2 linked regions of the Homo sapiens genome follow. The protein of the gene in region 2 purifies or fractionates together with the protein of the main gene of each other region. This does not show direct contact. Each region holds a gene or a part of one and is shown on either strand. Other genes may lie near its edges.

Region 1 (4,302 bases), on a different chromosome or scaffold from region 2:
TATACATTTTACATAATTTACATATTTTTATACACTTAGTAATTTACAGAAAATGTAGGGAAAAAAGAACAGTAGAAGATGTAATACTTACATACAAAGGTCTCTACATGTGTGCACAAGTCGCCACATTTAGGACAGCGCAGCTGGTTTCCACCTTTCCCAGAATTCCCAGAGCCTGATTTCTTACTACTTCCCTCACTTGCTGATTTCTAACGTTTATGAAGGAGAAAAAAGGAAGAGTGTCAATTATTAGTTTCAGGCAACCAACTTAAATGTAAACAATACTGTTTGTAATTAATTTTATAATCTTCTATATTTCTAGGATGAAATTATTAGTATATTTTATAATTCTATTACTGGTGTCAGAAGATCTATTTACTTCAAAAATCAAATCAGTTCTAGTAAATACATATATATCTGCAGTCCTCCTTTGTATAACATGTGCCAACATATATAATAAACAGCTTTCATTCAATGACTCAGGCACTAGAAAATTTACTAAGGGTAAAAAACTACATTTCAATGAAATTGAATCAGGAGTTATTATCATGGTAGGTAGTGACTCTGACTATTCTTAGATCTAACTTTTCTCATCTCTAAAATGGGAATAATTTTACTCACATCAGAGTCACTGTTAAGTATGGATATGTAAGTGTCTCACATTTTGTCTAACATATAAAATTAACTCAAGTGTTAGTCAAATTCACGTAATGAAAAAAACTGTTAAGTCACTGACTCAATACAACTACCAACATAAGTTATACTAGCTACAACATAAAGTTATACCAGAAATATGAAATTTTTAGGCTACCAGAGTAGCCCAACATTAAGTTATACCACAAATCTGAAATTTTTAGGTAGAGGATAAAGTGAGGTTTATACTGCCATGGGTTATAAGAGTTATATGAAAGCAGGAAATGATGGCTATTCCTAATTCAATCCTACTGACTGTCATTTAATGACACTTCTTTACTACTTTGGGGTGTAAGAAATTTTAATTACTGCTTACTATGTGCAATGCTTATAAAAGTATTTTAAGGTTCAAAATGAAACATCTAATTACATAAAATTATTCAGATCATTTTAGCTATCTCATATTTCCTACAGAAAACATATAAGCCAGTAAGAGACAGTACTGTTATATTTTTTTAAAGGAGGGAACTCACAATGTGTACAGATGCCAATAAGATAAAATAATTACCTTATTTCCATCTCCAGAACCATCTTTACTTATCCCATCTTTTGAGGCAAAGTATGCTGGTGTTTCTGTAAAGGATCTAAGAGGAGCTCTTTGCAGAATCTGAGTTTCAAATGTCCCAAGCCTTCCTAAAACTGACATATGAATGCGACCACCAGAAATACCTGAAAATAAAAGGAAATCTACATCAAATATAGACATGCCTCAATAAATCCCCTGGAAACAAAAATTCCTTGAGCATAAAGGAGGTTGAAAAAAAGCTATCATTTTCACAGTAGTATAAACTGAGAGAAAAAAAATGACACCAACGGAGGCAAAGTCCTTTCAAAAACAGGCCAGCAGGTCTGGGCCTCTGAAAGATTCTAAATAAATAAAGGTGTTTCTTTCTGTATGTGTCCTTTGGAAATAAGGCAAGATCACCCACGTCATAACTTTTTCAAAGTTTGAATGGACTTCAACATCTGCCTCACCTGTAAGATTTTGAAAAAGGCCATTTATGCCCTATATTCTTATTATTTCTACCAATGAGAATAAACATCTGACAGCAACTCATCTGTTATTATATAAGAATACTATCTGGGCCGGGTGTGGTGGCTCACCCCTGTAATCCTAGCATTTTGGGAGGCCTAGGCGGGTGGATCACTAGAGGTCAGGAGTTCAAAACCAGCCTGGCCAACATGGTGAAACCCCGTCTCTACTAAAAATAAAAAAAAATTGGCCACGCATGGTGGTGGGCGCCTTTAATCCCAGCTACTCGGGAGGCTGAGGCAGGAAAATCGCTTGAACCCGGGAGGCGAAGTTTGCAGCGAACTGAAGTCGTGCCACCGCACTCCAGCCTGGGTGACATAGCGAGACTCCATCTCAAAAAAAAAAAAAAAAATCTGTAACAATGGAAACAAACTTCAAATGTTCTTTAAGGTCAGGCGCGGTGGCTCATGCCTGTAATCCCAGGGTTCGAGACCAGCCTGGCCAACGTGGTGAAACCCTGTCTCTACTAAAAATACAAAAATTAGCTGGGTGTGCTAGCAGGCGTCTGTAATCCCAGCTACTCAGGAGGCTGAGGCAGGCGAATTGCTTGAACCCAGGAGGCAGAGGTTGCAGTGAGCCAAGATCATGCCACTGCACTCCAGCCTGGGCAACAGAGGGAGACTCTGTCTCAAAAAAAAAAAAAGTTCTTTAAAAAATTGTGTTATTCCACTTACACGTGGTACTTAGAAGGCAAAATCATAGAGTCAGTGAGTAGAATGGCGGTTCCTGGGGGTTGGGGAAAATGGAGAGTTATTGTTGTAATGGGTACAGAGCTTCAGTTTCACAAGATGATGGCAATGGTTGCACAGTATCAATGTACTTAATACTACCGAACTATACACTAAAAATAGTTAAGTCTTGTAAATTTTATATGTATCTTACCACAATAAAAAAATTGAAGGAGCCAGGTGTGATGGCTCACGCCTGTAATCCCAGCACTTTGGGAGGTTGAGGTGGGTGGATCACTTGAGGTTAGGAGTTTAAGACCAGCCTGGCCAACATGGTGAAACCCTGTCTCTACTAAAGATACAAAAAGTAGCCAGGCGTGGTGACAGGTGCCTGTAATCCCAGCTACTTGGGAAGCTGAGGCAGGGGAATCACTTGAACGAGGCAGAGGTTGCAGTGAGCCGAGATTGCGCCACTGTACTCCAGCCTGTGCAACGGAGCGAGGCTCTGTCGCAAAATAAATAAATAAATAAATAAATAAATAAATAAATAAATAAATAAAGATAGTATCAATCCCAAAAGTAGGCTTAGAAAAAGTAATTGAGGGGGCCAGGTGCAGTGACTCATGCCAGTAATCCCAGCACTTTGGGAGGCCCAGGGGGGCAGATCATAAGGTCAGGAGATCGAGACCATCCTGGCTAATACGGTGCAACCCCATCTCTACTAAAAATACAAAAAATTAGCTGGGCATGGTGACACGCGCCTGTAGTCTCAGCTACCCGGGATGCTGAGGCAGAAGAATCGCTTGAACCCAGGAAGCAGAGGTTGCAGTGAACCGAGATGGCACCACTGCACTCCAGCTTAAGCAACAGAGTCTCCGTCTCAAAAAAAAAAAAAAAGAAAGAAAGAAAGAAAAAGAAAAAGTAATTGAGGGAGAGTGACAGATGCAATCAATCAAAATGACCATTCACCAATCATAAAATCCTCATAAAAATGATAAAGCTCTGTAGCAAAGTAATTGGGATTTCTAACACTTTTTGTGCCATGAACCCCTTAAGCAGTCTGGTGAAGCCTCTGAATAGATCTTCTCAGAATAATATTTTTAAATGTATAAAATAAAATACATAACAAAGGAAACAAATTATAATGAAGTAGTTATCAAAAAATTTTTAAAATATGCCTCTTTATTAACAAGCAAAATTAAATAAGATCTAACAGCTTTTTAAATAATTACTATGATTTCAAAGTAGCAAAAAGTATGGACAATATTCTGAAATATCAGCAACTATAATGTGATATGAAAATATTTCTGATTTTGATTGATGACAAATCCACAGACACTTCTAAGACTACTGTGGATGTGTTGCCCACATTCATAGGCCAAGGAAACGTTGTGTTTCAGTTAGAGCTTAGTGAAAATAAAGTTCACAGAATCTCTGAATTCTATTCAAGGACCCTTTGGAGGCCTGTAAACCCCAGGTGAAGCTCTGAAAGCCAAAAAAGAGAAGTGTTTCTGTAAAGTATATTTCACCAGATTACCTGGCAGCAACCAGAAAAGACAATTTAAGTTTCACTATTTACAGAACTTTATCATACAGACAAAGCTTTCTAAATTTCAGAACAACTGTTTTTAAAAAGAAATACTAGTCCGGGTGCGGTGGCTCAAGCCTGTAATCCTAGCACTTTGGGAGGCCAAGGCGGGTGATCTCCTGGGGTCCAGGAGTTGGAGTCCAGCCTGACGAACATGGCAAAATCCCGTCTCTACTAAAAATATAAAAATTAGTGGGGCGTGGTGGCGCGCGCCTGTAACCCCAGCTTACTCAGGAGGCTGAGGCAGAAGAATTGCTTGAACCCAGGAGACGGAGGTTGCAGTGAGCCGAGATCGCGCTACTGCACTCCAGCCCGGGCAA
Region 2 (4,881 bases):
CTGTCTCAAAAAGATAAAAAGAAAAAAGAAAATATTTCAGGGACTGAAAGTTGTCTCTGCATTTCCCTCCTGCTGTTTGCCTTCAGCCTTCTCGTATGACCTTAAGTTTGGAGAGGATCTTCTAATGAACCTAGCCAGTGTTCCATCTGAGGCAGCAATGTGCTCTATGATTTCTCTGCGTGTGGTTGACTCTCCAGCTTCTCTATTTGGAGTTCTCCTCTTGAGGCAGTCAGTGCCATTGCTGGACAGCTCCAGGTGTTGCAAAATTTTTCTTCAAATTAAAATCTGCTTTCTTCTAACTTCTACTCACGGGTTTTGTTCGGCCTACTGGGGCCCCACAGAATATCCATTTTTGATTCTTCTTTCAATATTTAAAGATGGGTGTCATATTACCCCCAAGTCTACTCTTATCAAGACACATATCCTCAGTTTTTCAACTATTTCTTCTATAAAGTGGTCTCCAGACCTTTTGGTTTCTTCGCCACACAACCCTAAATCCTCTCTAGTTTATCAATGCACCTATGAAAATATGGGGTCCAAAAGAGGGCTAACTGTCAGCCTGGGTCATTTTAGGGAGGCAGAGGGGAGTTGGCAGCATATGGTAGAAAGAACCTGGATTTGGGCCTTAGTTGTGCCCCCAGTTAGCTGTGTGGCCTTGGGTAAGACCCTACCCTTCTCTGAGCTTTAGTGTCCCCATCTATAAATTCATTTGAGGGTCCCTTCAGCACTCTTTTTTTTTTTTTATCCCTGTCCATATTCTTCTCTGAGTCCCAGGCCTGCCATCTGTTTTCCCCAGTATCCTAAGGCTGGGGAACACAAAATAGGCCAAGAACTGAGATTGCAGGGAATTTTGACCCAGCCTAGAGACAATAAAGGGGAAGGCAATGTCTCAGTTTCATACCATAGCTTTTCCCAGCAGCATGGACCCACAGACACATGTTTAACTTGGGTTCCACCGAAATATTCACCTCCTTCTCAGGCCATAGAGAGCAGGAGCGGAAGCACAACATCAGAGAAGTCAGATAGTGTCACTAAATTAGTGCCAAGAAGGGAGTATCTGGCACCCAGATTTTGGTGAGGAGATCTTGGACCTGTATGTTATACTCTCCCCTGCACCTCTTTTCCCTGTGGCCCCTTTTCTCTGTCTTCATTTGTTCCCCAAACTGAGCTCTCCTGACCCCATCAGAAGAGCCTACGAAGCCTAGGACCCTCAATGCCCACCCTACCATAACCTGCAGGCCAGCTTCCTAACCCAATTGAATGAGCCACAACCATACCTGGTGCTAGAACGAGGTCACTTTTATTTTTCTTTTTGTATGAAATTGGGGATGCAACCAGAAGGAATCACACAGAGATATGTGACACAGACCCCTGGGGCCTGCTCTTGGGAGTATCAGGAAGAGGCAAGGGTCACAGGGCAGGCTGGGGAGAGAAAAGAGGCAGATGGGACCAGGTAGGATTGTCTAGGGGTGGAGGGAGTTGAGGAAGGACATCCAGGAGCCCTGGAGCTGGGGGAGGAGCACTATCCTGGAGGACTAGAGTGTCAGGACAGGTGGATCTGGGGAAAGGATATGGTGTGGCAAGCAAAGGGCATGCTCACACACACCAGGAGTTGAAGAAGGAGCAAGAAAAGGAAAGGCGTAAGCAGGGAGGAAGCAAGAGAGACCCAGCTAGAGCTGCTGGGAGCCCCTCACTCTACCCCAAAGTGCACAACTCGGCAATAAATAGCAATATTTATAAATAAATAAATAAGTAAATAAATAGATGAATAAATAAATAAATAAATAAATATACTTGTAGAGCTAGGAGTTTGGTGCGAGGGAGGAGGGAGCACAGAAATGCAGTGAGTTCATTTCTTCTATGCAGGTTCTAAGGCCCTTCATTCCACTGCTGACCCTGAGCTATAGTGCGCAGGTGGGGATCAGCAGCATGGAGTAGGGGCGCAGAGTTGGGGGTCTCTTCCCTTGCCAAAGGCAGCTCAAGGAAAGAGAAAAAAATGTAATAAGTAAGTCCTAGGGCCAGGAGAACTGTGCATTTTCAGAGGGCAACAATTGGGCATCCTCCTTGCGTTGGGGGGAGGAACCAGTGAGGGTGCTGCACATTTTCAGAGTGGGCTGAGATGAGGAAGCAGAAGTGAGATGTGGCCCACTCGTTGCCTGAGCCTTCTGCAAATACTCCGGGCTGTTTGGGATGTCATCCCCTAATCCGGAATCTAGGTTTTTGTTTTTTTTTTTCTCTAGTGACACACAGGGAGGGAGAAAATTGGGACAGTAGGAGTCAGAGGGACAGGGAAGTAGCCAAATAGCTCAAAGAGGGCAAGGCACTCACTACCAAGTAAGATCTGAGGTCTGTATGTGCTAAGCCACAGGAACAAGATGGACAGAAACAGGAAGAGTTTTTCCATAATTCCCAGCTACTGAGATTCCCCTCACAGGAGTCAGGGCACCAACCCCTGCCTCCCCAGGGCCTCACCCCTCTGCCAAGCACTGAGAGACTGAGATCTTGGAGGAAGAAGCCCACTCCCCACTCTAACCCCAGCCTTCCTCCCTTGCAATTCTGACAGCCCATCCCCACCAGGGGCAGGAGAAGCTAGAACAGATAGGATACACAGCTGAGGTCTGTGGTGGCTGAAAATTTGGACATAGGGGTAGAAGAGGCAGCATTCAGTGAGAGAGCTTGGGGGCAGACTCCAAGTGTGGCTGGCTTAGTAAAGCCAGCAAGGATTCCATACCAACCACACTAGCAAACAATTCTGCACAGCTGGGCCTCAGCAATAAACCCCGGAAGGAACCCAGGAGAATAGCCCTCGAGGTGCCTGGGTCAGAGAAAGGAAGAGGCCCTCATGACCAGCCGGTGGGCTCTCTGCCTGTGCCCAGGGCCTTTGGGACTCCATGCCAAGGTATAAGGGCTCGGGGAGGATGCGGCCTTTCTAAGCAGTGAGCGGTGGAAAGGGGCCCCAGAGAGGCCCGGGAGGTGGGAGACAGGCTGAGTTCAGACGTCCAGCACGTGGTTCAGGTAGGAGATATAGCAGATGGCCAGGCGCAGAATCTCAATCTTGGAGAGCTTCTTGTCGGGGGGCAGCGTAGGCAGCAGCTTGCGCAGCTCGGCGAAGGCCAGGTTGAAGGCTTCCACGCGGATGCGTTCTCGCGTGGCGTGGGCCGTGCGGTACTTGGCTGTGGCGCGGCGCCGGCGCCGGCGCTCCTCGCGGCTCAGATGCTGCAGGTCTTTCCGGCCAGGCTCTCCCGGCTCTGGGCCTCGGGCCTGGCCCCCTCCCGGACCCCCAGGCCCGGCACCATCAGGGCCCGCCCCGCCCCCACAGTCACTGAAGCCCGACTCAGTCTCTGAGTGGGTGGGCGGCAGGTCCAGCTCCATGGTGTCTGAGTTGAGCATCATGATGGAAGCCCCCTGCCCTGTGAGATCAGGATCCCCTCCCCACCCCTCCCTCTGGGAGCTTGAAAGCTGGTGGTGGGAGGGGGAGGAAGGGGGAGGAAGGGTCGTGGGGTCTGCCACTGAGCTCTAGAAGTCACTGCCACTTCAGGGTTCCATGGTCAGGGTGCCAGTCTGAAGCCTGAAAAAGAGAAGAGAGAAGTGATAGCAGCGGAGGGAGGAGGGAATGCTCAGCTCAGAGGTGGGAAAGCAGGTTTGAGATGGGCTGGGAGGGGTAAGGAACTGTGAATGTGAGGGAAGAACAGCAGAAACTGGTGGGGGTCGGGGGGTGGGGAGAGGCCGAGAGACAGAGAGGCAGGTGGACAGGGTGAAAGGAAGAGGAGGACGAAAGGTAGTAAGAAGGGAAGAGAAAACGAGTAACAGGAAAGGAACAGAAGTGATGAGAAGGATACACCAGGCAGGTTAAAACTGAGCAAGAGGATTAAAGACTTAAAACCATAAAACTCCTAGAAGAAAACATAGGGAGAGACCTTCATGATGTTGGACTCAGCAGTGATTTCTTGGAAATGACACCAAAAGCACAGGCAACAAAAAGCAAAAATAGAAAAAACGGGACCACATCAGACTTTAATTTATTGACGAACATAATCAACAGAGTGAAAAGGCAATCTATGGAATGGGAGAAAATATTTGCAAATTATATATCTGATAAGGGGTTAATATCCAGAACATATAAATAAATCCTACAACTCAACAACAGCAAAAAATCAAATAACCCAATTTAAAAATGGGCAAAGGAGGGATTGGGAGGGGCGTGAAATGAGAAATTACAGAATGGGTACCGTGTATGTTATTCAGGTGATGGACATCCTAAGAGCCCTGACTTGACCATTATGCAATCTATGCATGTAACAAAATTGCACTTGTACCCCATAAATTTATATAAATAAACATTTTTTAAGAAAAAAATGGGTAAAGGACTAGAATACACATTTCTCCAAAGATTTTATACAAATGGCCAACAAGCATATGAAAAAATGTTCAACATCACTAATCATTAAAATGCAAATCAAACCCACTATGAAATATCACTTCATACCCATTAGGATGGCTACTATAAAAACAAAAACCAAACAAACAAAAAATAAGTCTTGGCAAGGATGTGGAGAAATTGGAACCCTTATGCCTTGTTGGGATTGCAAAATGATGCAACCACTATGGAAAACAGTATAAATGTTCCTCAAAAAATAAAAAATAGAACTACCATATGCTCCAGGAATCCTACCTCTGGGTATATATACAAATAAAGTAGGGTGTCAAAGAGATATTTGCACACTCATGTTCATAGCAGCACTATTCACAATAGCCAAGAGGTAGAAGCAACCCAAATGTCCATCAATAGACAACAGATAAACAAAATGTATTATATACATACAGTGGAATATTATTCAGCCCTAAAAAGGAAGTTCTGTCACATGCTACAGCATGAATGAA

What was found.
Region 1: the proteins of NHLH1 (region 2) and CLPX purify together in Homo sapiens (affinity purification with mass spectrometry; one large-scale study listed by BioGRID and IntAct). This does not show direct contact.

What each region holds. Positions count from the first base shown.
Region 1 is NC_000015.10:65,178,843-65,183,144, forward strand, and holds part of CLPX (ATP-dependent clpX-like chaperone, mitochondrial precursor), read right to left. Parts: intron 1,363-4,302; coding exon 1,202-1,362; intron 210-1,201; coding exon 92-209; intron 1-91. UniProt on the Homo sapiens protein: ATP-dependent chaperone that functions as an unfoldase.
Region 2 is NC_000001.11:160,369,244-160,374,124, reverse strand, and holds the end of NHLH1 (helix-loop-helix protein 1), read right to left. Parts: intron 3,569-4,881; 5' UTR 3,394-3,568; coding exon 2,992-3,393; 3' UTR 1,279-2,991; downstream 1-1,278. UniProt on the Homo sapiens protein: May serve as DNA-binding protein and may be involved in the control of cell-type determination, possibly within the developing nervous system.